2 separate regions of the Homo sapiens genome follow, and region 2 is linked to region 1. Evidence: fine-mapped expression QTL. A gene starts in region 1. The other region holds a variant in brackets. All regions are shown on one strand. Distances are from middle to middle. Region 1 holds the start of TAS2R4 (taste 2 receptor member 4). Region 2 overlaps BRAF (B-Raf proto-oncogene, serine/threonine kinase).

What was found. PIP is the estimated chance that this variant, and not a neighbour inherited with it, causes the effect.
Region 2: its variant is fine-mapped to the expression of TAS2R4 in monocytes (BLUEPRINT, PIP 0.95).

The regions. Positions count from the first base shown.
Region 1 is chr7:141,770,093-141,786,002 of GRCh38, forward strand. It overlaps TAS2R4 (taste 2 receptor member 4), which reads left to right and starts at 6,582. Exons shown (of 1, transcript NM_016944.2): 1 at 6,582-11,599. The coding sequence starts at 8,397. The coding sequence ends at 9,296.
Region 2 is chr7:140,893,750-140,909,659 of GRCh38, forward strand. All of the region lies in intron 1 of BRAF (B-Raf proto-oncogene, serine/threonine kinase), which reads right to left. Among named protein-coding and RNA genes, the nearest start is that of BRAF, 23 kb to the right of the region's middle. The variant T/C (reference allele first, on the strand shown) is at 7,490.

The DNA of each region.
Region 1 (15,910 bases):
ATGCTATCTCTCCCCCCTGCCCCCAACCCACAACAGGCCCCAGTGTGTGATGTTCCCCTTCCTGTGTTCATGGGTTCTCGTTGTTGAATTCCCACCTATGAGTGAGAACATGCGGTGTTTGGTTTTTTGTCCTTGTGATAGTCTGCTGAGAATGATGGTTTCCAGCTTCATCCATGTCCCTACAAAGGACATGCATTCATCATTTTTTATGGCTGCATAGTATTCCATGGTGTATATGTGCCACATTTTCTTAATTGAGCCTATCATTGTTGGACATTTGGCTTGGTTCCAAGTCTTTGCTATTGTGAATAGTGCCGCAATAAACATATGTGTGCATGTGTCTTTATAGCAGCATGATTTATAATCCTTTGGATATGTACCCAGTGATGGGATGGCTGGGTCAAATGGTATTTCTAGTTCTACATCCCTGAGGAATTGCCACACTGTCTTCCACAATGGTTGAACTGGTTTACAGTCCCACCAACAGTGTAAAAGTGTTCCTATTTCTCCACATCCTCTCCAGCACCTGTTGTTTCCTGACTTTTTAATGATCGCCATTCTAAATGGTGTGAGATGGTATCTCATTGTGGTTTTGATTTGCATTTCTCTGATGGCCAGTGATGATGAGCATTTTTTCATGTGTCTTTTGGCTGCATAAATGTCTTCTTTTGAGAAGTGTCTGTTCATATCCTTCGCCCACTTGTTGATGTGGTTGTTTTTTTCTTGTAAATTTGTTTGAGTTCATTGTAGATTCTGGATATTAGCCCTTTGTCAGATGAGTCGATTGCAAAACTTTTCTCCCATTCTGTATGTTGCCTGTTCACTCTGATGGTAGTTTCTTTTGCTGTGCAGAAGCTCTTTAGTTTAATTAGATCCCATTTGTCAATTTTGGCTTTTGTTGCCATTGCTTTTGGTGTTTTAGACATGAAGTCCTTGCCCGTGCTTATGTCCTGAATGGTATTGCCTAGGTTTTCTTCTAGGGTTTTTATGGTTTTAGATCTAACATTTAAGTCTTTAATCCATCTTGAATTAATTTTTGTATAAGGTGTAAGGAAGGGATCCAGTTTCAGCTTTCTACATATGGCTAGCCAGTTTTCCCAGCACCATTTATTCAATAGGGAATCCTTTCTCCATTTCTTGTTTTTGTCAGGTTTGTCAAAGATCAGATGGTTGCAGATATGCAGTATTATTTCTGAGGGCTCTGTTCTGTTCCATTGGTCTATATCTCTGTTTTGGTACCAGTACCATGCTGTTTTTGTTACTGTAGCCTTGTAGTATAGTTTGAAGTCAGGTAGCGTGATGCCTCTGGCTTTGTTCTTTTGGCTTAGGATTGACTTGGCAATGCGGGCTCTTTTTTGGTTCCATATGAACTTTAAAGTAGTTTTTTCCAATTCTGTGAAGAAAGTCATTGGTAGCTTGATGGGGATGGCATTGAATCTATAAATTACCTTGGGTAGTATGGCCATTTTCACCATATTGATACTTCCTATCCATGAGCATGGAATGTTCTTCCATTTGTTATTTCATTGAGCAGTGGTTTGTAGTTCTCCTTGAAGAGGTCCTTCATGTCCTTTGTAAGTTGGATTCCTAGGTATTTTATCCTCTTTGAAGCAATTGTGAATGGGAGTTCACTCATGATTTGGCTCTCTGTCTGTTATTGGTATATAAGAATGCTTGTGATTTTTGCACATTGATTTTGTATGCTGAGACTTGGCTGAAGTTGCCTATCAGCTTAAGGAGATTTTGGGCTTAGACGATGGGGTTTTCTAGATATACAATCATGTCATCTGCAAACAGGGACAATTTGACTTCCTCTTTTCCTAATTGAATACCCTTTATTTCCTTCTCCTGCCTGATTGCCCTGGCCAGAACTTCCAACACTATGTTGAATAGGAGTGGTGAGAGAGGGCATCCCTGTCTTGTGCCACTTTTCAAAGGGAAATGCTTCCAGTTTTTGCCCATTCAGTATGATATGAGCTGTGGGTTTGTCATAGATAGCTCTTATTACTTTGAGATACGTCCCATCAATACCTAATTTATTGAGCGTTTTTAGCTTGAAGCGTTGTTGAATTTTGTCAAAGGCCTTTTCTGCATCTATTGAGATAATCATGTGGTTTTTGTCATTGGTTCTGTTTATATGCTGGATTACGTTTATTGACTTTCATATGTCGAACCAGCCTTGCATCCCAGGGATGAAGCCTGCTTGATCATGGTGGATAAGCTTTTTGATGTGCTGCTGGATTCAGTTTGCCAGTATTTAATTGAGGATTTTTGCATCAATGTTCATCAAGGATATTTGTCTAAAATTCTCTTTTTTGGTTGTGTCTCTGCCCAGCTTTGGTATCAGAATGATGCTGGCCTCATAAAATGAGTTAGGGAGGATTCCCTCTTTTTCTATTGATTGGAATAGTTTCAGAAGGAATGGTACCAGCTCCTCCTTGTACCTCTGGTAGAATTCGGCTGTGAATCCATCTGGTCCTGGACTTTTTTTGGTTGGTAAGCTATTAATTATTGCCTCAATTTCAGAGCCTGTTATTGGTCTATTCAGAGATTCAACTTCTTCCTGGTTTAGTCTTGGGAGGGTGTATGTGTCAAGGAATTTATCCATTTCTTCTAGATTTTCTAGTTTATTTGCGTAGAGGTGTTTATAGTATTCTCTGATGGTAGTTTGTATTTCTGTGGGATTGGTGGTGATATCCCCTTTATCATTTTTTATTGTGTCTATTTGATTCTTCTCTCTTTTCTTCTTTATTAGTCTTGCTAGCAGTCTATCAATTTTGTTGATCTTTTCAAAAAACCAGCTCCTGGATTCATTGATTTTTTGAAGGGTTTTTTTGTGTCTATTTCCTTCAGTTCTGCTCTGATCTTAGTTATTTCTTGCCTTCTGCTAGCTTTTGAATGTGTTTGCTCTTGCTTCTCTAGTTCTTTTAATGTGATGTTAGGGTGTTAATTTTAGATCTTTCCTGCTTTCTCCTGTGGGCATTTAGTGCTATAAATTTCCCTCTACACACTGCTTTGAATGTGTCCCAGAGATTCTGGTATGTTGTGTCTTTGTTCTCGTTGGTTTCAAAGAACATCTTTATTTCTGCCATCATTTCGTTATGTACCCAGTAGTCATTCAGGAGCAGGTTGTTCAGTTTCCATGTAGTTGAGTGGTTTTGGGTGAGTTTCTTAATCCTGAGTTCTAGTTTGATTGCACTGTGGTCTGGGAGACAGTTTCTTATAATTTCTTTTCTTCTGCATTTGCTGAGGAGTGCTTTACTTCCAACTATATGGTCAATTTTGGAATAGGTGTGGTGTGGTGCTGAAAAGAGTGTATATTCTGTTGATTTGGGGTGGAGAGTTCTGTAGATGTCTATTAGGTCTGCTTGGTGCAGAGCTGAGTTCAATTCCTGGATATCCTTGTTAACTTTCTGTCTCGTTGATCTGTCTAATGTTGACAGTGGGGTGTTAAAGTCTCCCATTATTATTGTATGGGAGTCTCAGTCTCTTTGTAGGTCTCTGAGGACTTGCCTTATGAATCTGGGTGCTCCTGTATTGGGTGCATATATATTTAGGATAGTTAGCTCTTCTTGTTGAATTGATCCCTTTACCATTATGTAATGGCCTTCTTTGTCTGTTTTGATCTTTGTTGGTTTAAAGTCCATTTTATCAGAGACTAGGATTGCAACCCCTGCCTTTTTTGTTTTCCATTTGCTTGGCAGATCTTCCTCCATCCCTTTATTTTGAGCCTATGTGTGTCTCTGCACATGAGATGGGTTTCCTGAATACAGCACACTGATGGGTCTTGACTCTTTATCCAGTTTGCCAGTCTGTGTGTTTTAATTGGAGCATTTAGCCCATTTACATTTAAGGTTAATATTGTTATGTGTGAATTTGATCCTGTCATTATGATGTTAGCTGGTTATTTTGCTCGTTAGTTGATGCAGTTGCTTCCTAGCCTTCATGGTCTTTACAATTTGGCATGGTTTTGCAGTGGCTGGTACTGGTTGTTCCTTTCCATGTTTAGTGCTTCCTTTAGGAGCTCTTTTAGCGCAGGCCTGGTGGTGACAAAATCTCTCAGCAATTGCTTGTCTGTAAAGGATTTTATTTCTCCTTCACCTATGAAGCTTAGTTTGGCTGGATATGAAATTCTGGGTTGAAAATTCTTTTCTTTAAGAATGTTGAATATTGGCCCCCACTCTCTTCTGGCTTGTAGAGTTTCTGCCGAGAGATCAGCTGTTAGTCTGATGGGCTTCCATTTGTGGGTAACCTGACCTTTCTCTCTGGCTGCCCTTAACATTTTTTCCTTCATTTCAACTTTGGTGAATCTGACAATTATGTGTCTTGGAGTTGCTCTTCTCGAGGAGTATCTTTGTGGCGTTCTCTGTATTTCCTGAATGTGAATGTTGGCCTGCCTTGCTAGATTGGGGAAGTTCTCCTGGAGAATATCCTGCAGAGTGTTTTCCAACTTGGTTCCATTCTCCCTGTCACTTTCAGGTACACCAATCAGACATAGATTTGGTCTTTTCACATAGTCCCATATTTCTTGGAGGCTTTGTTTGTTTCTTTTTATTCTTTTTTCTCTAAACTTCTCTTCTCGCTTCATTTCATTCATTTGATCTTCCATCACTGATACCCTTTCTTCCAGTTGATCGAATCGGCTACTGAGGCTTGTGCATTTGTCACGTAGTTCTTGTGCCTTGGTTTTCAGCTCCATCAGGTCCTTTAAGGACTTCTCTGCATTGGTTATTCTAGTTAGCCATTCGTCTAATTTTTGTTCAAGGTTTTTAACTTCTTTGCCATGGGTTCGAACTTCCTCCTTTAGCTCGGAGTAGTTTGATCATCTGAAGGCTTCTTCTCTCAACTCGTCAAAGTCATTCTCCGTCCAGCTTTGTTCCATTGCTGGTGAGGTGCTGCATTCCTTTGGAGGAGGAGAGGCACTCTGAGTTTTAGAGTTTCCAGTTTTTCTGCTCTGTTTCTTCACCATCTTTGTGGTTTTATCTACCTTTGGTCTTTGATGATGGTGACGTACAGATGGGGTTTTGGTGTGGATGTCCTTTCTGTTTGTCAGTTTTCCTTCTAACAGTCAGGACCCTCAGCTACAGGTCTGTTGGAGTTTGCTGGAGGTCCACTCCAGACCCTGTTTGCCTGGATATCAGCATCAGAGGCTGCTGAACAGTGGATATTGGTGAACAGCAAATGTTGCTGCCTGATCATTCCTCTGGAAGTTTTGTCTCAGAGGAGTACCCAGCCGTGTGAGGTGTCAGTCTGCCCCTACTGGGGGGTGCCTCCTAATTAGGCTACTCAGGGGTCAGGGACCCACTTGAAGAGGCAGTCTGTCCGTTCTCAGATCTCCAGCTGCATGCTGGGAGAACCACTACTCTCTTCAAAGCTGTCAGACAGGGACATTTAAGTCTGCAGAGGTTTCTGCTGCCTTTTGTTTGGCTATGCCCTGCCCCTAGAGGTGGAGTCTACAGAGGCAGGCAGGCCTCCTTGAGCTGCAGTGGGCTCCACCCAGTTCTAGCTTCCCAGCCACTTTGTTTACCTACCCAAGCCTCGGCAATGGTGGGTGACCCTCCCCCAGCCTCACTGCTGCCTTGCAGTTTGATCTCAGACTGCTGTGCTAGCAATGAGTGAGGCTCTGTGGGCAAAGGACCCTCCGAGCCAGGCGCGGGATATAATCTCCTGGTGTGCCGTTTGCTAAGACTGTTGGAAAAGCACAGTATTGGAGTGGGAGTGACCTGATATTCCAGGTGCCGTCTGTCACCCCTTTCTTTGACTAGGAAAGGGGATCCCCTGACCCCTTGCACTTCCCGGGTGAGGCGATGCCTCGCCCTGCTTCGGCTCACATTCGGTGCGCTGCACCCACTGTCCTGCACCCACTGTCTGACACTCCCCAGTGAGATGAACCTGGTACCTCAGTTGGAAATGCAGAAATCACCCGTCTTCTGCGTCACTCATGCTGGGAGCTGTAGACTGGAGCTGTTCCTATTCGGCCATGTTGGCTCCACCTGAAAAAATTTCAAACTTCTAAATTCCTGTTTCTTCATGACTGACCTCATTCTTCAGAGCCATCATCAAATAAGTTAAGTGCCATTCATTTGCTTTGACTATTTGCCCTAAAGCCTTTCTTACAGACCTGTCAAGAAGCAGAGTTTGGATCCATGACTGCAGTGCCTGCTGGTTGGTCTTCTTGGGCTCTAGTAAATAATCAAACTTATAAGACTATCTTAGGCTACTGTGGTACCAGCCTACTCAGATGGATATAGTTGAGGGACCCGATTTACCAGCAGGGCAGTGTCAGGCCTTCCTCTTTTGCAGAGTTTTTGGTGCAGGCCATACAGTTCAGGTACAGTAATAAGAGACCCACAGTAGGGTAAGGGTGGGAGCTGCTGCAAATTAAAAGCTTCGTGTCCCAAAAGATCCAATTTATTTTGTGGTAATTTTGTAGACAAAGCTTCTAGGGTTGAGTCAAGGTACAGGTACATGGGAAGGAAGCCCAATGCATGTAGACTCCATAAGATACTTATTACAGTTCACTTATAGTTCCTTCCAGTCAAGATGCAATTTTCCAATCAAGAGTCTTTTTTTTTTTTGTTCTAGAAACATAGTTGATGTTCTTACCCTTATCATATAAGGATAAGATTATCCTTATCATCCTTATCATCATGATAAGGAAAACAGCTAGGAAGTTTAACCATAGGTCAAATTCTCATGCATAGGGAGAAAGGGTTCTGCTAACACTTTTCCTATACTGACCCTTGTGGAAATAACTTCTAACTGAATGAGCTCATTCATTGATTGTGCTAGCCAACCTTATCACATCTTAATTATAGCACTTCCTCCTACAGAGAACCCAACAATTTGGTATAGTACATTCTAGATAGAGTTTGTTACTATCTAATTCTGGGATTCCTGCTCTTTTGGCCACATTTATCTGTTATGGCTTACTCTATATCATTTATTCTATTTAAATGTGATGTTAGTAATATTTCAACTTCACCACTTTAATGCAGCCATCTATGGATAAGTAATTGGAAATCTGTGCTATAATTTTCCTTTTAGTCATAGTCTTCCTGGCTCATTCTGTTTGCCTGCTTACCTGATGTGGGCATGCCTCTATCAGTGCCTGTTAGTTTTGAATAAAAAGCTTCTGTAAGCACCTGGGCACCAGGTCAGAGAATTTCTCCAGGCTAGGCTTCCTGTCATCTGTCTTAAAGGGCCTCATGAATGTATTCCCCTCTTCTGGACCTGATTATTATTAAATCTTAGCTCCTTTTTCTTGTCTGTTTCTATTTGGACTTGGCAGTAGGACTTTGTGCTGTACCTTGATGCTACTTTGGTAACATCTGTGGCTGCATCCAGGATTGCACCTTGGTTTCATTCAGCTGCTAGAGAAGATAAGAGATGCCATACTCTTACATTCACCTATGGGCCTCCATAATATCATTTGCCAGGGATATTTTGCCATTTCCCATCTGAGCAAGTACAGAGAAATCCAGCAATGAGATGCCTAGCTGTTTGGCTCACAAAACTACAACTAATGCATTACTGTGTATCTCATTCCAGGGTACCTGGATTGACAGTTAAATGCCTAAGAGAAAATAGCCACATATGATCTAAACATAAACCCAGATTTATAAAGGAAACACCTACAAGGGCTGACTTAATTTTTTCTAAGGAAAACCAGAACATAGCAAATGGTTATGGCACAAATCTATGTATGTAGATAGAGAAGGCAAAGCAAAGGGCATCAGAAAGAATGGGATTAATTGAGAAAGGTTTTCTCAAGGAGGTATTGGGTCTTTGAACTTGATCTATTAGATCACTGTAAATCGCTATAGGTGAATCACTGAGGTTGAAAGAGTGGCATTGGCATGGCCAATTGGTGAAACTTGTTGTGGCAGCAACAGATTAGAGGGGAGAGAGAAATTGGATTCTGGTCATCCATGAATATGTGGCTAGGAGGTGGGTGGGTAGGAGTGAGGAATTAGGATTTCCACCATATTCTGGCATTTTTATGAAGAAAAACTTTACCGTAAAACATTGACAGAAACATTGCTGGACTCAAGCTCTCTGGTTTGGATTCTAAGTTTTTGGAGCCTGCTGTGACTCTTCCCTCTCGCCCTCCTGCTCTTGGAGGAGTGGACTCCCAGCATCACCTAGGCTTGCTGTAATTAGGCATTTCTAAGGAGAACAGGATACTAATGAAGAAATAGTAATGTAATCCTTGGAAGATTTGCATCTCAGTAAAATCAGGTGGCCCTTGATCATGAATGGCTCATTTGCCATGCTGGGAAAAATTAAAAAGGAGATGTCCTTCCTGGCTGGATACTGGTGTCTGCTTATACATTTTGGTATTTCTTCTGCCTCCACTATCAGCACCACAACTGCTGAATCCTCAATGAGTAAAGATGCTTCGGTTATTCTATTTCTCTGCTATTATTGCCTCAGTTATTTTAAATTTTGTAGGAATCATTATGAATCTGTTTATTACAGTGGTCAATTGCAAAACTTGGGTCAAAAGCCATAGAATCTCCTCTTCTGATAGGATTCTGTTCAGCCTGGGCATCACCAGGTTTCTTATGCTGGGACTATTTCTGGTGAACACCATCTACTTCGTCTCTTCAAATACGGAAAGGTCAGTCTACCTGTCTGCTTTTTTTGTGTTGTGTTTCATGTTTTTGGACTCGAGCAGTGTCTGGTTTGTGACCTTGCTCAATATCTTGTACTGTGTGAAGATTACTAACTTCCAACACTCAGTGTTTCTCCTGCTGAAGCGGAATATCTCCCCAAAGATCCCCAGGCTGCTGCTGGCCTGTGTGCTGATTTCTGCTTTCACCACTTGCCTGTACATCACGCTTAGCCAGGCATCACCTTTTCCTGAACTTGTGACTACGAGAAATAACACATCATTTAATATCAGTGAGGGCATCTTGTCTTTAGTGGTTTCTTTGGTCTTGAGCTCATCTCTCCAGTTCATCATTAATGTGACTTCTGCTTCCTTGCTAATACACTCCTTGAGGAGACATATACAGAAGATGCAGAAAAATGCCACTGGTTTCTGGAATCCCCAGACGGAAGCTCATGTAGGTGCTATGAAGCTGATGGTCTATTTCCTCATCCTCTACATTCCATATTCAGTTGCTACCCTGGTCCAGTATCTCCCCTTTTATGCAGGGATGGATATGGGGACCAAATCCATTTGTCTGATTTTTGCCACCCTTTACTCTCCAGGACATTCTGTTCTCATTATTATCACACATCCTAAACTGAAAACAACAGCAAAGAAGATTCTTTGTTTCAAAAAATAGTGGAATTTCAGTAAACAATACCTAGATTTACCTGATGGTTTGGGGGCAAGATTTTCTGTTTGCAGTTTTCCCAGTGATCTGGGGAATTCAGTTTTGTGATTGCTGATCTGACATCATAGGCTTTTGAGTGCCTGAATTTCAGTTCATTCTGTAATTTTTTTTTTTTGGTATGTAAGTATTTTAAAATAAGGCACATTCTGTAAGAAACTTTTTTGAGGCATTATTTGTCATGTATTTTGCATGGCCATTGAATCCATGTATAATGGAAATCATCACATTGTTTCATTGTCTATTGAAGTATAATGGGAAATTCTTCCAAATTAGAGAACACATTGGGGTGCACGTGATGAGTTAGATATTTGTGGTTTAGCTGAGGAGCCCTGAGTAAGGGCTCAGCAGTGGATAGGTGGTCACTGGGAGCCACTGGACTGACCGAAAGCAGAGGAAGGGGGTTCAGTGCAAAGAGAAAAGGAAAAAAGGAAGGTTTCAGAGAGAAAAGAAGGAAAGAGAAAGGTGAAGAGAAATAGGCGTACACTGGGCCAGGCGCGGTGGCTCATGCTTGTAATCCCAGCTCTTTGGGAGGCCGAGGCAGGTGAATCGTGAGGTCAGGAGATCGAGACCATCCTGGCTAACACGGTGAAACCCTGTCTCTACTAAAAATACAAAAAAATTAGCTGGGCGTGGTGGCGGGCACCTGTAGTCCCAGCTACTCGGGAGGCTGAGGCAGGAGAATGGCTTCAACCCAGGAGGCGGAGCTTGCAGTGAGATGAGATCGCGCCACTGCACTCCAGTCTGGGCGACAGAGCAAGACTCTGTCTCAAAAAAAGAAATAGACGTACACTCTGGGACAAGACAGAAAAAGTATCCTCACACTTGCTGGGTAATAGTAACTGTGCTATTCCTAGCAAGAAACCCTAAGGTTTCTAGGCTTGTTCTGGAAAAGAGGATATTGCCAGAGTTGGTAAGTAGAGGAAAGTGATTAGTATTTAAGAAACTGAATCAAGAATGGTTCCAAAAATCTTAAAATCCAGGGAAACCAGCTTAAGGTCAAAGGCAAGTGCTAGATAATGAAATTAACACCATATGAGTACAAATTTACAAAATACTGTACTTCACCATAGGCTATGGAACTCAGTGGAAAGCCAAAAAAGCACTGGACAGGTGGTGGGAGTGCTTGACTTGTGGTGAATTTATTTCATCTGCTTATACATTTGTACACAGCACAGTTCTTCTCCAGAATGTTGTTTCTGTGGCTGGGACCATTGGACTGTGGCTCCAAAAGAACAACAGTCTGAAGATGGGATGTTGACAAGTTTTGGAATGTCAATTGGGGAATCATAATTTGTATTTATTTAGGTTTTTTTTGGTGTTCATAAAATGCTTATGTAATATTTACATATGTCAAATAAATCTTAAAATTTTATAAATTACATGACTTTTCTCATTCTGGCCACCAGAATCTTGACTGCAATATTCAGTAAAAATTACCCAAGCCAATATTTTGTGCTATGAAACCTGGAGGTATTCATCATGTTAAATCCTAAGAGAGATAAAAGGATTACTGAGAGTGATTAAATGCATACTATGTCTTAAGAACTCTAAATGAGTGGCAGAAACCCTCATTGGTCCCTCAGTATCTGTTCTTTCTCCTCTCTTCCATAGTAATCAAATCATTAGCTGTTCAGAATTTTGGCAGCAAATTCCATTATTGCCATGTATGTGAGCAGAAAAGATGTATATAATTTCTGGGTGGTACTTCGGAGCAGTCCTACCTTCCCTTCTTTAATCTTTTCTTTGTTACTCCCTCCATGAGCTGGAATGCTGACATCATGATTGTCTATCTTGGACAATGCAGATGAGGTGAATGCTTGGGATAGTGAAGTAATTCTCCATCCTAGAGCTGGCTCCATGGTTCTTCACACTGTGGACTTGTAACACCAGCTCTGGACTGCTCAAGCCTGAACTCCAGGACTGTTGATGAGAAATCAGTGTCTCCATTCTTTCAGGTGCTGGAGTTTTGGTCTCTGTTACCTTAGTCAAATAACCTATGCTATACCTTAAATATACACAATAATATATATCTTTATGATGAAATAGTATGTATTTACCATCTTATTAGTCAAAGAACCTTTTTATATGACCTACTAAGTGAAATTGAAATAAAACCTGTACATGTGGTATAATACCATTTTTTTTGGTAAAAATGTGTACATATGAAGAAAAGTCTAAAAGGAAATATATAAAAATGTAAACAGTAATTATTTTAGGTGGGAGGAATCAATAAATTTTTTTGTGTATTTCAAGTTTTCTATAATGAACATTTTTATATAATCAAAAAATATTTTTAAATATATAATGTATATATGGTCTATCTATCTATCTATCTATCTATCTATCTATCTATCTATCTATCCATCCACCAACCCACTCACCTCCCTCCCTCCCTCCCTCCCTCCCTACTTACCTAAAAGACAGAGAGGGAGTTCTGAGGTCAACATCGAGTTTGTCCTCGCTAAGAAAGGTAAGTGAATTGTCTTGCTTTGTCTGGATTCTTTTTATTGTATTGGCAAAGTTCTGCCAATTTGTTTCCTGTTTGTCCTACACTGTCTTCAATTTTCCCCTCTCTGGGTTGGATGTGTTGTCTTTGTGTTAGGACTGTTTTTGCTGTTTGAAGAAAGTCTTCAGTCTTTGCTTAGGCACTTGCCCAAAGTCTCCCTTGGGTACAGTTTTTAAGAATGCTGTATGTTTAGAGTTTTGCTGGTTCTGATATGCTCTGCTAAATACCCACCACTAAGTACTTATTAACCAAGGATTTAAAACAATTTGGATTTTGGTTTGATTTTTTCAAGACACATAACTTAGAGGCTCTCTAATAAAAATAATATCCCGCATACCCCTCCCTTTCCTGCAGTAGGCAGAGCATAGAGGGAGGTTAAAAACTCTTTGTTAAGAAGTCACTTTCTGAAGTGGAGGGCAGGTGTCAGGACAGTGTACAACCTCATGAAACACCCATCGTGGTAACCAGAACTCAGGGTCATTGCCATTTAACTTTTAACTGCTACATGCCCAATACTGTATGAGCTACATTTCCACGTTATTATTTTAGTTGGTCATAACCTCTTTGGTAAGATAGCTATTATTGTCTCCATTATATAGTTGAGAAAATTAAGGCCCAAATAAGCCATATGAATGGTTCATAATAGCAGAACTAGGAAGGAATAGATCCAGAGCTCCCAGTGTAGTCTCTGAAAGTATGAAATTATTGTGGGTGCTTAGTTTCCTTAGCTGAAATGAATGTCATGGTGTCACATAGACTCTGGGCTTTTAGGCCTTGAGATTTATATGAGATATGTTTTTAAGTGAAAAAGTAGTAACATTAAAGAAGAAAAAATTATTAGATTTCTTTTGAATGTTGCTACTTGGGAAGGAATAGGCCAACAGAAATGTAATGAAAAGGTAGATACAATTTCTATAAGAACTAAATGAAATTCTTAAAAATTTCAAGGATTTTAAGAGCTTGTTTATATCACTTAAGTTTCACTTAAACATTTCTAAACATGTCTGGCTTTAGGTTTCCCTGATCATTGCTACCTGCATTCTGTTAATGAACCATTTTCAATTTTTTAAAAAAGAGAAAAGATTACTGGAAAGGAGTCTTTTAAAGCATGAACGGAATGTAACTTTTAAGGTAGCATCAAAAGCTACAGTCTTCAGGTGAAACTGAAGCTTACTGAAGGCATTTAAAATAAATTTTCCAATAATATAATTTTTTTTTACAAGTTAAAGCTGGAGATGGATCATCTACTCTAGTTCACTGGTTCTCAAAGAGCGCTGGGAGGGTGAGAATATGTCAGAGTCCATTGGGAATTTTTATTTTTCACATTTTATATACAGTCTGTGTGGGTTTCTCAGCTCTATTTAAAATATACGTGTCTTCATTCATTCTGGGTGTGGGAGTGGAAGGGGGAAGTGGAATTTGACAAAACTCCCTAGGGATTTGGATATTGTGGTCTAAGGGAAGGCACAGGTATAAATTTATTTCTCCTTCTAAGAGAAGAGCCAAGGCCAGTTTTACTCCATGAGGAAAAAAGTGTGAAAATAAATTCCATGTTTGTATAATAATTTGCCTGGCATAGAAATTAACAAGAGAGTGATACGGGTTAATGGGGGTGGGAGAAGAGGAGAGGAAAGGGGAGACATGAGGGTAAGGTCAACAGCAGGAGGAGGGGTGCAGTCTGTACACCCTCCTCCCCATGCCTGGCAGAGGTGTGAGGTCAACATCACTTCACCACGGTATGATTGTCCTCTGTGTTGTCTATTTGGATATATGGGGTCTGGGAAATGGGGTGACTGTAACTCTGCCTTGAGTCAGCAGGAAGGAGCCAGGAGCCCTGGGCAAATGACTGAGTGTGTGCACAGCTAGCTTGCAAATGAGATATCTAAACACAGGTGCATACTTGATTGGCCTGACAACATTTCTGACCTATTTTAAATATGGAAAAATTATTTGTCTCAATTTTGCTGCTTTCACAGATGGGACAATGACTGTGGTTATAATGATCTGAACTCCAGGTACCTCAAGAGAAGAAATAGCTAAACATTGATATTACTCAGAAAAGACCTCTCCTAACTCCTACCCACCCCTTTACATCTTTGACTTCTATGTGTTTTAAAGGTCTGGATTAATCAGTCTCTCATCTTTATTCATGCTTTCCAGACATTCTGGAATTGTGCAGAACTGGACACCTGTGTCTAGAATCAGTAGCTCAGTTCATCCTGGATTTGCATACTGTGAATAACAGACTTCAGGTGCTTTCTGACTTTATTGAAAGTAGTAGTTAGGGAGAGAAATCACCAGGGAAGGAAAGAAAAATAACAGTAATTAGACTATTTGGGAAGCAACAGGCTGGGTCATTCGTTTTATCATCACGATAGCTCTGTGACGTAACATTATCATCATCATTTTATAGAGGGGACACTGAAGCTCAGAGGGGTTAATTGGCTTGTCTAAGGACAAGAAGTGGTTGAGTTGGGAGCACCCCCAAATCTGTCCAACTTCAAACACATTGCCTTTCTCTGCATGGCCACAAGTGCCCCATTGATTAATACATCTAACAGAAAGCTAATCTTGAGGCCTAACAGAAAGCTATCTAACAGAAAGCTATCTAACAGAAAGCTATCTAACAGAAAGCTAATCTAACAGCTAATCTTGAGTCCTGTGTCCCATTGAGAGCTGGTACTAGCATGAACATGTGAACTCTTTGCCTTGGATGGGCAGACACCCAGAAAGCCCCGTCTGTAGCCTGTGCTGCTTGACCCTTTCCTTAGCGTGATTTTGCAATATTATGGGAACACCTCAGTGTCTTCTGGATACGCACAATTCTCATTGCTAAATGCTAAAAATGTAATTATTATATCTGAGTTTTATTTAAATTTTTAAAATGTTTTATTTCATTTTATTTTCTAATATTTTATAGAAAAGTTGCAGAATGAGTATAGAGAGTTCAAATATCATCCTCACCCAGTTTCTGCTAATATTTATATCTTACCATAACCATGGTACAGTTGCATTTAGTGTCTCTAGTCTGTGTCAGTTTCTCAGCTCTATTTAAAATTACCTTGCCAGTTTTAAAGATTACTATTCAGGCATTTTGTAGAATGTCCCTCAGTTTGGGTTTGTCTGATATTTTTCTCTGTTAGACTGAGGTAAAGTGCCCTACTCATCACGTTAGGAGTTCTGTGATATTAACATCACTGGTCACTGGTGATGTTAACCTTGATCACTCGGTGAAGGTGGTGTCTGCCAGGAACATTGTAAAGTTACTATTTTTTCCCCCATTTTCACACTTTGTTCCTTGGGAGCAAGTCATGTCCAGTACAAACTCAGAGGGAGGGAAATTATGTGCACCTCCTGGAGGGTTCCCCACATTTTGCCTGCTATAGTTAAAAATTCTCAGCCCTCCAAATTTCGTATTCATAAAAGCACACAAAAATAACTCCCTGGGCCGGGCGCGATGGCTCAGCCTGTAATCCCAGCACTTTGGGAGGCCGAGGCGGGTGGATCACGAGGTCAGGAGATCAAGACCATCCTGGCTAACACCGTGAAACCCCGTCTCTACTAAAAAATACAAAAACTTAGCTGGGCGTGGTGGCGGGCACCTGTAGTCCCAGCTACTCGGGAGGCTGAGGCAGGAGAATGGCATGAACCCGGGAGGCGGAGCTTGCAGGTGAGCCGAGATCGCGCCACTGCACTCCAGCCTGGGCGACAGAGCGAGACTCCGTCTCAAAATAAATAAATAAATAAAATAATAAAAAAATAACTCCCCCTCTTTCATCTGCAGTCCCCTCACTAGCCCGCTTTTACTCTATTCACTTTCCTGCCCTGAATAACGTTGCCGATGCTGGTCATTTTCTTCCTCGGGGTTGTGATCTTTGCTGCACACAGCAGCCAGCCTCAGTGGTGTAGTTTGTGCTTCCTCCTCCCTCCGAACGCCTAAATTGCGGCACCAAAGAGGCCGCAATGACTGGTGAGCAAGACTCCTCTTCCTCATATTTTGTGAGGAAGGAAGCTGGCAAGACTATGAATTTGTGTACATTTATAAATTGTGTTCCTG
Region 2 (15,910 bases), 880 kb before region 1:
AAGTTAGTCAAGGAAACAAAAGAAGTCTCTGATATATCCCCATCTATCACTATCAAATGCATTTTAGGGGAAAAAAATGACTGAAAAAACAAAATTGAAGAACAGATGAAATGGGAGATGAGGCAGGAGGCAGTGGCTCACTCCTGTAATCCCAGCACTTTGGGAGGCCAAGGCGAATTTGAGACCAGCCTGGTCAACATGATGAAACCCTGCCTCTACAAAAAAATGCAAAAAATTAGCCAGGTGTGGTAGCACATGTCTGTAGTCCCAGCTAATTGAGAGGCCGAGATGGGAGGATGGCTTGAGCCCAGGAGGCAGAGGTTGCAGTGAGCCAAGATCACAACACTGCACTCCAGCCTGAGTGAGAGACCCAGACCCTGTCTCAAAAAAAAGAAATAGGAAATGAAAAGTGAGTTAGCAGGGTTCAAGAAAGAAATGGAAGGTAATAAAAAGACCACTTCAGAAATGAAGGCCACGGTGGAAACAGAAAGAAATGGCTGAAGAAGAAAAAAGGAAGCCATTCTTGGCAGAAAAAACAGAACTACTTGATAGGAAAATCAAGCTGATGAAAAGATAAATAAAACAGAATTAGAAATCAAGAAGTCATGGTTTTAAAGAATTAAAGGTGAATATTAATCCCATTCAAACATGTAACTCTGAGACTTAAGGATAAAGTAAAAAATAAATGCATTTTTTTCAATGACAAGGTTTATATCTCATATGAAGAGATGGAAAAAAATTTTTTTAATGGTAGCTGGGGAAAGGGAGGTATAAGTGTACTGATTTTCTTACCTTTATTAGCAAGGAGTTAAAATAGTCCTGATTATTTTCACAAATCAAGAAATGGAGGCTTACAGATATTAAATCTATGAAGGTAGTAAGAGAATAAGATTTATAAAAAATCATCAAAAACTATTAGATGGGAAACACACACATACCCATAAGAGACAAAGCCCCCAAAGAAAAATATAATTAATAATGTGGAAGAACTGCCTTATCAACAAAATATAAATGAGATAAGCTCATCTATTAAAAAAATAAAAAAAGAAACTCAGCTCACAAACCAAAGCCCTGAACAAATGCTGTATATAACATCCACATCTAAAACTCACTCAGAAAAGTTGAAAGTCAAAGAATGGGCCCAGTGGTTACTTAAAGCCTAATGAACTTACTTTCGAGAAACATTTTCTTTGGTCTGATATAAAAACTGGCCAAAATCACAGAAAACTCTAGAAAACGAATCAGCTCTTGATACCAAAACCATGGAACAGCTCAGAGAGGTATAGACTGAGCTCACTTGTAAACACAGTCGTAAAATCCCTAAATAAAAACCTGAATTAGGCAAACCTAATTCAACAATCAATTAAAAGAATATACAATAAAATGTATCCAGTGACACAAGAGTTGCTTACTCAAAACTAGGAAGTCTACCAATACAATTACTTACCTAAATAGATCAATGTAGGAAAAAAACATGATCACCTCAATAAATGTACGAAAAAAATCTAACAAAATTCAACAACCATTTAGGATTTTTAAAAATGCCCAACTGTCAGCAAACTAGAAATGGAAGAAACATTCTTAAACTTCATATAGGGTATCTATAAAAAGTCTGTAAGTCACCAAGCATAACAGAAGCATTCTCACTAAAGACAGGAGAAACATTCGTCATTTCTTTGTGTTGGGAATATTCAATATCCTCCTCCTAGCTATATGAAACTATATATTATTAACTATAGTCACCCTATACTACTACAGAACACTAGAACTTATTCCTCCTATCTAGCTGTAATTTTGTATCCATGAATAAATCTCCCCAGAGCTTCCACTCTACCCCTACTATTCCCAGCCCGAGTATCCTCTGTTATACTTTTTACTTCTATGAAATCAACTCTTTTTAGCTTCCACATAAGAGTGAGAACATGCAGGGTTTAACTTTCTTTTGCTGGCTTATTTCACTTAACGTGATGTCCTCCAGTTCCAATCATGTTGCTGCAAATGACAGGATTTTTCCTTTTTACGGCTGAATAGCATTCCATCGGATGCTATACAACCACATTGTCTTTACCCAATCTTCTGTTGTTGAACTGATTCCATATCTTGGCTACTGTGAATAGTGTGCTGCAGTAAACATGGGGATGCAAATGTCTCTTCGACGTACTGACTTCCCTTCCTTTGGGTAAACGGCCAGTAGTGGGATTGCTAGATCACAGGAACCTCCATACTGATACAGTGTCTGTACTAGTTTACATTCCCACCAAGAGCGTCCAAGAGTTCTCTTTCCTCTGTATCTTCACCAGCATTTTTAATTTTTTGTCTTTTTTATAACAGCCACCCTAACTGGGATGAGACAATACCTCACTGTGGTTTTGATTTGCATTTCCCAAGTCTTCTACAGTTTTATAGCAGCCATCCTACCTGGGGCCAGATGATACCACACTGTGGTTTCACCTTGTAGTTTTGGGTCTTACAGGTAGGTCTTTGATCCATTTTGAGTTGATTTTTGTATAGGGTGAGAGGTGGGGGTCTAGTTTCATTCTTCTGTATATGAATATCCAGTAAAAAAATATATTTTTTTCTAAACATCTCATTCACAACAGCACAAAAAGATTCTCGCAAATAATACCAATCCTCCACATCCAAAAGGATGAAAACATTATGTAGAAAACTATAAACCTTTTAAGGAAAAAAAAACAGAGCTGGGAGTAGTGGCTCACACCTGTAATCCCAACACGTTGGGAGGCTGAGGCGGGTGGATCACCTGAGGTCAAGAGTTTGAGACCAGCCTGGCCAACATGGTGAAATCCTGTCTCTACTAAAAATAGAAACACATGGCCCAGGCGCGGTGGCTCACGTCTGTAATCCCAGCACTTTGGGAGGCCGAGGCAGGTGGATCACCTGAGGTCAGGAGTTCGAGACCAGCCTGACCAATATGGTGAAACTCCGTCTCTACTGAAAATACAAAAATAAGCCGGGCATGGTGGTGTGCACCTATAGTCCCAGCTACTCGGAAGGCTGAGAGGAGAACTGCTTGAACATGGGAGGCAGAGACTGCAATAAGCCAAGATTGTGCCACTGTGCTCCAGCCTGGGTGACAGAGCGAGACTCCATCTCAAAAAAAAAAAAAAAAAAAGGGGTGGGGGGGGAAGAGACCTATAAACAAATGAAGATAAAAACCATGTTCATGAATTGGAAAACTCAGTATCATAATAAATCTCTAATATATATGTCCCTACATTAACATATAAACTTAATGCAATCACAATGAAAATCCCAATAGTACTTTTTACAGAATTTGACAACCTAATTCTTTTTTTTTTTTTTTAACCAAATACCTAGACTTAGAGGACATTGACAATCTAATTCTTCTAATGGTCACGTGGAAGAGTGAATGAGCATATGTTTGCCGCAAATAAACAAAGAGAAGAGACTGGCATTACCAAAACCAAAGATATAAAGTAGTAATGTGGACAAACAGGTTATAGACAAACAGGTTAAGAAGTAGCCCAGAAATCGGTCCATGGGAATCTGGTAGAAATGAGAGGTTGCTTTACAAATAAGTGAGAAAAAGACTGTGCACATATGTACAAATGGTGTTGGGAAAATAACATCCCCCAAGACATCTTCATATAACAAATACTAGACTGCTTAAATACCTAAACAAAATTTTTAAAATTTTCAATTTATCAGAAGACAATATAGAGAATATGCTTTTAACTCTGGATAGGAAAGATTTCTTTTTTCTTTTTTTTTTTTTTTTTTTTTGAGACAGAGTCTTGCTCTGTCGCCAGGCTGGAGTGCAGTGGCACAATCTCAGCTCATGCAACCTCTGCCTCCCGGGTTCAAGCAATTCTCCTGCCTCAGGCTATCGAGTATCTGGGACTACAGGCACACACCACCACGTCCAGCTAATTTTTGTATTTTTAGTAGAGATGGGGTTTCACCATGTTTCATCCATGCCAGGATGGTCTCAATCTCTTGACCTCATGATCTGCTCACCTTGGCCTCCCAAAGTGCTGGGATGACAGGTGTGAGCCACCGCGCCCAGCCAGGAAAGATTTCTTAAAAAAATCAAAATCAAAATCAAAATAAATAAATAAATGAAAAGACTGCTAAATCTGACCACATAAACAGTAACAACAACATATGTCTTTATAAGGAAAGGCTAGGGCAGGAACAGTGTCTCACGTCTGTAATCCCAGCACTTTGGGAGGCCAAGGTGGGAGAATCACTTGAAGCCAGGAGTCGAGACCAGCCTGGGCAACACAGCAAGACTCCATCTCTACAAATTTTTTCTTTTTCAAATTAGTTGGGCACAGTGGTGTGCATTTGTCCCAGTTACTTAGGCTGAGGCTAGAAGACTGCTTGAGCCCAGGAGGCTGCAGTGAGCTATGATCACACTACTGCACTCCAGCCTGGGTCTCAAAAGAGTGGGAGGCTTGCCTCTTAAAAAAATAAATAAATAAAAATACAAATAAAAAAGGACTAGAAGGAAATATTTGACATGATGGATAAAGAAGACTATCCATAGCCTAGGCCTCAATAGAGTGGGAGGCCTGCCTCTTAAAAAAGAAATAAAAATAAATAAAAATACAAATAAAAAAGGACTAGAAGGAAATATTTGACATATGATGGATAAAGAAGACTATCCATAACAGAATACCTAAAAATAAGTTCTAAAAACAAATAGCATAATCTACAAATGGCATGTCTATAAACAATTTAAGAAAAAACCCAAAGGCTAACATATGAAAACATACTCAACCTCACTAGTAATCAGAGATGAAAATTAAATGAGATAAATTTTCCCTTTATTATAAAGCTATGTAGAGAAGTTTGCAAAACATCGTTCCATTAAAGCATAACTGTAAAGCAAACCCCACAACCCAAGGTAAGAAATAGCATTGCCAATTATCTTAAAAGTCTCCCATTTGTCCTTAATCACATCCACTTTCTCTCCTCCCTGAGGTAGTCACTATCACTCACTTTTATCATCATTATTCCCTTGATTTTTCTTATAATTCTAGTATCTCTACTTATAATTCTAGTACCTATATTTGTATTCCTAAACAATACAGTTAACTGCATTTGTTTTTAAACTGTTTACGAATAGAATCATGTTGCACTTAATCTTTTGTGACTTGGTTCTAAGGTATGACTAATGTATTTGTGAGATTCATACATATTGATGCAGGCAGGAGCTGTTTGTAGTGTGGTTTTTTTCCTTAGCTATTTGAACTAGTTTTTTGTTCCATAAGTAAACACACAATGATATCTACTGCACTACTGAGGATACTTGAACTTTTTTTCTATCTTGGGGTTAATATGAATAATACTGTTATGAGCAATCTTATATATATGCTTCCTACTTCATATATTCACACATTTCTCTATGTCTAAAGCAATGGCTGACTCTCAAAGTATGATTCCTGGACAAGCAGCACCAACATCCCACCCCCCCACCCCTCAGCCCACTCCCGGCAGGAACTTGTTAAAAATGCAAAGCAAACTATCAGGCTCCACCCAATTCCTACTTAATCAGAAACTCTAAGGGTAGCCCCAACAGCTGGGTTTAACAAGCCCTCCAGATGACTTTGATGCATACTCAAGAACCATTAGTCTAGGGCAAACGCCTAAGAGTGAGTGGTATTGCTGGTTATAGGATATCCTATTATTTTCCAAAGGATTTTTCCCCCCAATTTACATTCCCATCCATCAGTGGAAGACAGTTCAGACTGCTTCATAGCCTCACCAACATTTAATATTGTCAGATTTTTTCATTTCTGCCAATCTATATGAAATGGTCTCTCATTGTGGTTTTAATTTCTATTTCCCTAATTGTTAACTAGATTAAGGGTCATTTCATATGTTTATTAATCATTTAAATTTTTTTTTAATTCAAATGCCTGCTCAGGATTTTTTGCCCTTTTTCCAATTTGGTGTTCTGTCTTTGTCTTAGAAATCTATAGGAATTTTTTATGTATATTTTTCATACCAGTTCATTCTTTACATGTTGTAGTAGGTAGCCTCTAAACTGGCTCCCAATGATCCTCACCCTCCTGGTGGTGCCTTGTACAAACTCCCCTTGAATGTAAGCTGGAGTTATTGCCTTGCTTCTAACAAAAAGAATATGGCAGAAGTGATGGGGTGCCACTTCCAAGACTAAAATACTGTGGTTTCCATCTTGGGTGTTTTCTCTTACTCCCTTCTAGAAAGCCAGCTCTGAGGCCTGCTACATCCACATGAGGGAGCACAAAGCAGTCAAGCCTTCAAATGACTGCAGCCATTGACTGATTACAGCCTCAAGGCCCTAAGCCAGAAACATCCAATTAAGCCACTCTCAGTTTCCTGACCCACAGAACTGTGAGAGAAATGTTATTTCAAACTGCTAAGTCTTCGGTAATTACACAACAATAGATAACTAATAGTGTGTGTTATAAGTATCTTCTATTCCTTGCCTTGCCTTTTGAGTGTCTTAATGGGGCTTAATGAAAAAAGTTTCTATTTTCAATGTAGTCAAATTTGTCCATTTTTTATGGCTAGTTTTTTGAGTCTTAAGAAATTCTTCTCTGCCTTAAATAATGTCCCTTTATTTTTCTAAAAGCTTTCAGGGTTTCCCCTTTTGTATTGAATCTTTAACCTACAAGAAATTGATTTTTATGCATAACAGATGGGGAAGTCTAGCTTCATTTATTTAATATGGTAGGCATTGTTCCAGCAAGTGTATCCTTTCCCAACTAATCTGCCACAAGAGCAGGTGTCCCTCCACCTACCCATATGTAAGAATATAAAATTCATCCATATTATTTAGTATTACCTGCCATTTTGTTATTCATCTCCTCTTTCTGTTGTTTTCTGTTTGCTTGTTTGTTTGTTTTTAAGACTGAGTCTTGCTCTGTTGCCCAGGCTAGAATGCAATGGCACAATCTCAGCTCACCACAACCTTCACCTCCCGGATTCAAGTGATTCTTGGGCCTCAACCTCCCGAGTACCTGGGATTACAGGCGTGCACCATCACAGCCAGCTAATTTTGGTATTTTTAGTAGAGACGGGGTTTCACCATGTTGGCCAGGCTGGTCTCGAACTCCTGGCCTCAAGTGATCCAACCGCCTTGGCCTCCCAAAGTGCTGAGATTACAGCCATGAGCCACTGCACCTGGGTCCCTTTTCCTTTTATAAGTCCCTCAGACGCTCCACAGGCTGGGCCTAAAAACCCATGCCTGTGAGACCCTCAAGGTCATCCTCCCTCTCTGCTCAGTTGGGTAACTGCTCTTTGGACAGCACTCAGCAGTAGATTCTCCTCTCCTTTTCTAACAAAGCCATAGTCCAACTGACATAATATTAAAGATCTATTATAAGCAAAGTGTGTCTATTTCTAAGCTTCCTATGTTAAAAGAAATTAATAGAAACTAATTAAAGTTTGTATGAAAAAATATGATCAAGAAAAATTGTAAATACAAATATGAGATAATAAAATTAGTGTTGTAAGT[T/C]TGTTTGTTGGTAGTCCCAGTACTTAACCTGTATTTCAGGAAGTGTTCTATTCAAAACCCTAGATACCACTACAAGTGGATCTGAATGTGAGCTTTGGGTGGGAGCCAGATCTCACATTCACAAAGGTAATAACCAGGATGAGCAGTGCCTACCATAGAGCATTAAAAATTTGCCGAGTGGAAAAAGGAATTAAAGAAGTCTTCCTACCTTATTGTTTTTAAAGTATATTTTGGCTATTCTTGCCTCTTTAAAGCTTCCACAGAAATTGTTGAATCAGGTTGTTAGGTTCCATAGAAAAACCTACAGGAATTTGCATTTGGATTTCAATAAATCCACTATCAATTTGAGAAATACTAACATTTTTAACATACTCAGTCTTCCAATCCACACTCAGTACAGGGTATGTACCATTTATTTAGGTGGTCTGTCTCTAAATAAGGTTTAATTACTCTTCTTTATAAAGATTTTGTATATCTGAAGTATTTAAAATTCAGTTTAAGTATCTCCTTTCCTAGGAAATCTGTCTTCCATCCCCTAAAAGCATATTGAATTGTGCTCCTTTTCTGTGATTCTTCTGCATCTGGGGCACACTTTCATCACAGTACACTGTCCTTAATTCTTTATTTATCTACTTCTACCACTTAACTGTAAGCTCCTTGAAGACAAACTATCATTCATTTCTATATCCCAGTGCCTAGCATACAACTCAGCACAAAGGTGCTAAATATTTATTTTTTATGCTTAAAGGAATGAGTAAATTTAACCAATGACTGTGAAGTATAAACTGTACAGGCATGCTTCATCATATTGTGCTTTGCTTTACTGCTCTTAGCGGATAATGGTTTTTGTTTGTTTTTTACAAACTGAAGGTTGGTGGCAACCCAGCATCGAGCAAATCTGTTGGCACCATTTTTCCAACAGCATATGCTCACTTCATGTCTCTGTCACATTTCAGTAATTCTCATAGTATTTCAAACTTCTGCATTATTATGCTGTCTATTTTAGTGTTCTATGATCTTCGATGTTACTATTGTAATTCTTTTGGGGTGCCACGAACCACACCCATATAAGGCAGTGAACTTCTTCAGTAAATGTTGTGTGTGTTCTCACTGCTCCACTGACCAGCTACTGCCCTAACCCCTTCTTGGGCCTCCTATTCCCTGAGATTTCAATATTGAAATTAGGCCAATTAAAAACCCTACAATGACTTCTAAGTGTTCAAGTGAAACCAAGAGTCACATGTCTCTCTCTTGAAATCAAAAGCTAGAAATGATTAAGCTTAGTGAAGAAGGCATGTTGAAAGGCAGGCCTCTTGTACCAAACAGCCAGATTGTAAATGCAAAGGCAGAGTTTTTGAAGGAAACTACAAGCACTACTCCAGTGAATACATGAATGATAAGAAAGCAAAACAGGCCGGGCACTACGGCTCATGCCTATAATCCCAGCATTTTCAGAGGCCAAGGTGGGAGGATTGCTTGAGGCCAGGAGTTTGAGACCAGCCTAGCCAACACAGTGAGACCCTCTAAGAATTAAAAGAAAAATAGTTTAAGAAAAGCAAGCAAGCAAAACAACCTAGTTGCTGATATAAAGAAAGTTTTAGTGATCTGGATAGAAGATCAAACCAGCCACAACATTTCCCTAAGTCAATGGTTGGCTTCAAAGCTTCAAAGGACAGGATGACTTTTTTTTTTTTTTTTTTTTTGAGATGGAGTTTCGCTCTTTTTGCCTAGGCTGGAGTACAATGGCATGATCTCGGCTCACCGCAACCTCTGCCTCCCGGGTTCAAGCGATTCTCCTGCCTCAGCCTCCTGAGTACCTGGGATTACAGGCATGTGCCACCATGCCTGGCTAATTTTGTATTTTTTTAGTAGAGACAGGGTTTCTCCATGTTGGCCAGGCTGGTCTTGAACTCCCGGCCTCAGGTGATCCGCCCACCTCGGCCTCCCAAAGTGCTGGGATTACAGGCATGAGCCACCACGCCTGGCCTAGGACACGATGACTCTTATTAGAGGCTAATGCAGCTGGTGACTTTAAGTTGAAGCCAATGCTCATTTATCATTCCAAAAATCCTAGGGCCTTTGGAATTCTGCAAAATTTACTGTCTGTGCTCTGTAAATGGAACAATGAAGCCTGGATGACAGCATATTCTTTTACAACATAGTTTGCTGAATATTTTAAGCCCACTGTTGAGACCCACCGCTCAGAAAAAAAGATTCCTTCTAACACATTACTACTCATTGACAATGTGCCTGGTCACCCAAGAGCTCTGATGGAGAGCTACAAGAAGATGAACGTTTTCTCACCTGCTAACACATAAATCTTGCAACCCATGGATCAAGAAGTAATTGTGACTTTCAACATTCCTTATTTAAGAAGTACCTTTCATTGGGCTATAGCCGCCATAGATATCGTTATTACTCTGATGGATCTGGGCAACATTAATTGAAAGCCTTCTGCAAAGAATTCACCTTTCTCGATGCCATAAAGAACATTTGTAATTCATGGGAGGAGGTAAAACTGGCAACATTAACAGGAGTTTGGAAGAAGTTGATTCTAACCCTCATGGATGACTTTGAGTTCAAAACTTCAATGGAGGAAGGAACTGTAGGTGTAGTAGAAGCAGCAGAAGAACTACATTTAGGAGTGGAACCTAAAGATGTGACTGAATTGCTACAATATCATGATGAAATTTGAACAAATGGGAAGTTACTTCTTATGGATGAGTAAAAAAAGTGGTTTCTTGACATGAACTCTACTCTTGCTGAAGATGCTGTGAGCAAACACTGTTAAAATGACAGCAAAGGATTTAGAATATTACATAGAATTAGTTGATGAAGCACTGGCAGATCTGAGAGGACTGACTCTAATTTTAAAAGCAGTTCTACTGTGGTTCAAATGCTACCAGAAAGCATCGCCTGGTACAGAGAAATCTTTTGTGAAAAGAAGTCAACTGATGTCGCAAACCTCACTGTTGTCTTAAGAAACTGGCATAGCCATCCTATCCTTCAGTAACCACCAGGGATGAACCAGCAGCCATCAACATCGAGGCAAGACCATCCACAGCAAAACAATTATGACTCATTGAAAGATCAAATGACTGTGAATTTCCCAGTAGATCTAGAAGTTTAATGAAACTCCAGCTCAGTTATTTTTTTTTTTTCCAATCAAGAATCTTTCATAGGTGGTAGGTATTTCTTTTTTGGGGGAGGCAGGGAGGGGTGTCAAGAAACTTCGTATCTAAAGACATAACATTTGATTCTCTCACTTTCAATGGTCTAAGATATATCAAGTTGTGGAATTTGATCAATCAAAAATTTTTAATCATCTAGTTCAAGGTATTTTCTAACTTCCATTGTGATTTCTTCTTTGATGCATGGATTATTATTTTTTTTAGAGGGAGTCTCGCTCTCTCAGACTGGAGTGCAATGGCACGATCTCGGCTCACTGCAACCTCTGCCTCCTGGGTTCAAGCAATTCTTCTGTCTCAGCCTCCCAAGTAGCTGGGACTACAGGCATGCACCACCACGCCCAGCTAATTTTTATATTTTTAGTAGAGACGGGGTTTCACCATGTTGGCCAGGCTGGTCTCGAACTCCAGCCCTCGTGATCCGCCTGCCTCGGCCTCCCAAAGTGCTGGGATTACAGGTGTGAGCCACTGCGCCTGACCAGATTATTTCCAAGTATTAATAGTTGCTCAATTTCTAACATGAAGCTTTAAAAATTACCCTATTGATAGAGATCTTTAATGAAAATGGACAGAAAAAAATGCTTTTTTGGTTTCAATCCTTTGAAATTTGTTGAAACTTGTTTTACAACATTATTACTCAGTCAATTTTCCCCCCAAAATCCTACATGCTTGAAAAGAATGTGTAGCCTGCCACTGTTGGGTAGAATGGGTTCTATACACCCACTGGGTTAAACTTGTTCATTGTGTTATACAAATATTTTATATCCTAACTAACCTGTCTGCTTCTTATACCAGTTACTTAAAGAGCTGTTTAAAAATACCCCATTAAGACTGAGAAATCTGTCTATTTCTTGTAGTTTTGTTTAACTTTTGCTATAAATATTCTAAAGCTATATTTCAGGTTATACTATATTACTAAGGCTATTAAATCTTCACAGTGAATTGGTCATTTTATCATTTGAGGTGACTCTTCTGCCAATAATGCTTTCTGCCTTACTGTCCACCTTTGATATTAACTGTACCATACTGTCTGCTAGAATATGCATGGTATGTCTTATTGTGATGATTACTTTTGATCTTCTTTATTCTTAGGTTTCAGATATGTTCCTTATAAACCCCATATAACTGAATTTTTTTGGAAATTCAGTGTAACAATCTTTGGCTTTTAACTGAATAATTTAATCCATTTTGTATTTAATGTAGCTGGTGATATGTTTAGATTTAAATCTACCCATCTTTGTGCTACTTGTCCTACTGGTTCTTTCTTTTCTTCACTTCTTCAGGATTAATTTTTATTAATCATTTGTTATCTTCTGTTGGTTGAGAAGTTAAAAGTCTGGTTTCTACATTTTTAGAAGATAACTTAGAAATTAAAACATAGGCCGGGCGCGGTGGCTCACGCCTGTAATCCCAGCACTTTGGGAGGCCGAGGCGGGCGGATCACGAGGTCAGGAGATCGAGACCATCCCGGCTAAAACGGTGAAACCCCGTCTCTACTAAAAATACAAAAAATTAGCCGGGCGTAGTGGCGGGCGCCTGTAGTCCCAGCTACTTGGGAGGCTGAGGCAGGAGAATGGCGTGAACCCGGGAGGCGGAGCTTGCAGTGAGCCGAGATCCCGCCACTGCACTCCAGCCTGGGCAACAGAGCGAGACTCCGTCTCAAAAAAAAAAAAAAAAAAAAAGAAATTAAAACATATAATTTATCAAGGTCAAGTCAATTAATACTTTCTACCTTTCTCTCTGACAATACAAAGGTCTTAGAACCCGGCCTTCGCCTGTCATATATTTTTTTTGAGACAGGGTCTCAGTCTGTTGCCCAGGCTGGTGTGCAGTGGCACGACCAAGGATCACTGCAGCCTCAACCTCCTGGGCTCAAGCGATCCTCTCACCTCAGCCACCTGAGTAGCTGGGGCTATGGGCATGCACCACCACACCCAGCTAATTTTTATATTATTTGTAGAGACGGGATTTCACTATGTTGCCCAGGCTGGTCTCAAATTCCTGGGCTCAGGCAATCTGCCCGCCTCAGCCTCTCAAAGTACCATGCCCAGCTTCTTGTCACATATTTTAATTAAGGTCTTACTAGTACTTTATACAGTCAACGTTTCTTTTAATACATCCACATATTTGCCACTCTCTTTGCTCTTTATTCCATTTTGCACCTCAGACTTTTATCTAGAATCTTTCTGCCTTAAGTATTAATGTATACTTCATAATTTCCTTTAGAAAGAGCTGATGGAGTTTGTTCAACTAAGTATTTTACCCTCATTGTAGAGGGATAATTCTTTGCTAATTACAGAATTCTAGATTGGCAGTTATTTTGAGAATATATGTAATTTTCTATTGAAAAGTCAACCATCAGTCCATAGTTGCTTCTTTGAAAAACATCTTTTTTTCTCTCTGGCTACTTTCAAGACTTTTCTCCTTGTATCTGGGTTTATGCAGTTTTCCTATGATTTGTCTGGGTGTAGATTTCTATTTATATTGCTAGAAATTCATTAACCTTCTTAAATCAATCAACTGGTTTCTCATTGGATCTATAAAATTTTCAGCCAGAAATATCTTTTGAAATATTACTTCTGTACCATTCTTTCTCCTCTCTTTCCAGAGCTCTGATTAAAGAAATTAGATCTTATTCTGTCTTCCATGTCTCTTTACCTCTCTTCAATATTTTCTTTTTTATTCTGTGCTACACTCTAAACAGTTTCTTCTGCCTTGTCTCCCAGGCAATGAACTCTTTCTTCAGCTAGGCATAATCTCTTAGGTATATTTGGTAAAGTGTTCACTTCTGGAATTTCTATTTGGTTTTTTGCAAATCTATTAAGTTGGGTTTTTCCCCCCCTTTTCTTTTTTGAGACAGAGTCTTGCACTGCCACCCAGGCTGGAGTGCAGTGGTGCGATCTCAGCTCACTGCAAGCTCCACCTCCCAGTTTCACGCCATTCTCCTGCCTCAGCCTCCCGAATAGCTGGGACTACAGGTGCCTGCCACCATGCCCAGCTAATTTTTTGTACTTTTAGTAGAGGTGGGGTTTCACTGTGTTAGCCAGGATGGTCTCAATCTCCTGACCTCGTGATCTGTCGGCCTCAGCCTCCCAAAGTGCTGGGATTACAGGCATAAGCCACCGTGCCCAGCCATTTTTTTTCCTTTATTTGAGACAGTTTCTCATTCTGTTGCCTAGGCTGGAGTGCAGTGTGGCACAATCATACATCACTGCAGCCTCAAACTCCTGGGCTCAAGCGGGTCCCAAATTCCTGGCCTCAAGTGACCCTCCCACCTCAGTCTCCCAAAGTATTGGGATTACAGGCATGAACCAAAGTAACTTTTTTTTTTTTTTGAGACACAGTTTCACTCTTATAGGCCAGGCTGGAGTGCAGTGGTGCCATCTCGGCTCACTACAATCTCCACCTCCCAGGTTCAAGTGATTCTCCCACCTCAGCCTCCTGAGCAGCTGGGATTACAGGTGCACCTCACCACACGTGGCTAATCTTTGTATTTTTAGTAGAGACAAAGTTTCACCATGTTGGCCAGGCTGGTCTTGAACTCCTGACCTCAGGTGATCCGCCTGCCTTGGCCTCCCAAAGTGCTGGGATTACAGGCGTGAGCCACCGTGCCTGGCCCTAAGTCACTTTATAAGAGTCTTTTGTTCTTCAAGTTTGTCTCCAATTCTTTAAATTTAACAGTGATTGTTTTAAATCCATCTGATATTTGCAACATTTGAAGATTTTATAGATCTGTTTCTGCTCTCTTCTTATTCACAGTGCCAATTGGATGCATGCTTGGTTATTATTTTTCCTCTGTAAAAACGTAATTTTAGGTATATATACATAAAGAAACCCACACAAATTTTAATTACATTGCTGAAAGAATTCTACATATATATTACATATTATATATCTCTCAGGTAATTTTGCTTGCTAATTTTTTTATTTTTACTATGTTTGATTACTTGTGACAATGTACTGTTCATTGTCCTTGAAAAATTACTGGAAGCAATTCCCTAGAATGAAAGGCCTTTCTCCACACGTGATTTGCCTTTCCATCTGCCAGGCCATGGAAGTAATACTAGTCTGAAACCAGTAACCATGATAAATGGCTGGAGGGTCATTTATCATGGAGGGTCCCTGGACCACCCAGACAGAGCAAACCCTCAAGGCAAATCACTGTGAAGGCTAAAACTGTGGTCACAACTTGAAAGGTTTATTTTTCTTAATTTCCTTTTCCTCCTCCTGCTCCATTCAACCTTCCCTGCAATCACATGGATATGGGAGTGTGTAGACAGTTCAGTTGTTTCACCCTTAACCTAACGATAGAGTCACTGGGGTCCCATCTAAAACTGAGGTTATTCTTTTTGACTGTCACTTTAGATGAACTCTAGGACTTGATTTCTGTCCTCTTCACCCCAATGGTCCACCAAAACCAAAGCCCAACTTGTACAGATTGGCAACTGCCTTTAGGGCAAAAGCTACTTCATCCACTTATTTATTTGGATTCTTGTTTATTCCTAGAATTTGGCCTGGCAGCTCCCCACTATCTTTTCAGCTCTGCAACTGCTCTACGTTTTCTTTTTTTTTTTTTTTTTTTAATACTGTTTCCAAGAATTTTAATTGTTTTCATCTGAATAACCCAGTCTTCCAATACTGAAAACAGAAATCAATTTCTCCTTTTTACAACAACTATTTTGTACATTCTCTATACTACCCTTAAATGTAATTCAGAGGCTGGGCACAGTGGTTCATGCCTGTAATCCCAGCACTTTGGGAGGCCGAGGCGGGCAGATCACCTGAGGTCGGGAGTTCAAGACAAGCCTGACCAACATGGAAAACCCCCGTCTCTAATAAAAATACAAAATTAGCCGGGCATGGTGGCACATGCCTGTAATCCCAGCTACTTGGGAGGCTGAGGCAGGAGAATCGCTTGAACCCGGGAGGCGAAGGTTTTGGTGAGCACGCCATTGTACTCCACCCTGGGCAATAAGAGCAAAACTCCGTCACAAAAATAAAAATAAAAAATAAATGTAATTCAGAGATAATCTACCTTAGTGCAATTTTATAATATTTAGGCTATTACTATAATAAATAACACACTGATGGTACTTTGTACATATATACAACAAGCACTGTGACTGTGGCAGTTACAACTGCAGACTGAAGAGTATTTGCGTCACCAATACAGCACAAGTGACACTGCCATCAATTACGTGATTTTCTAAAGGGGTGGAGTACTCCTGATAAA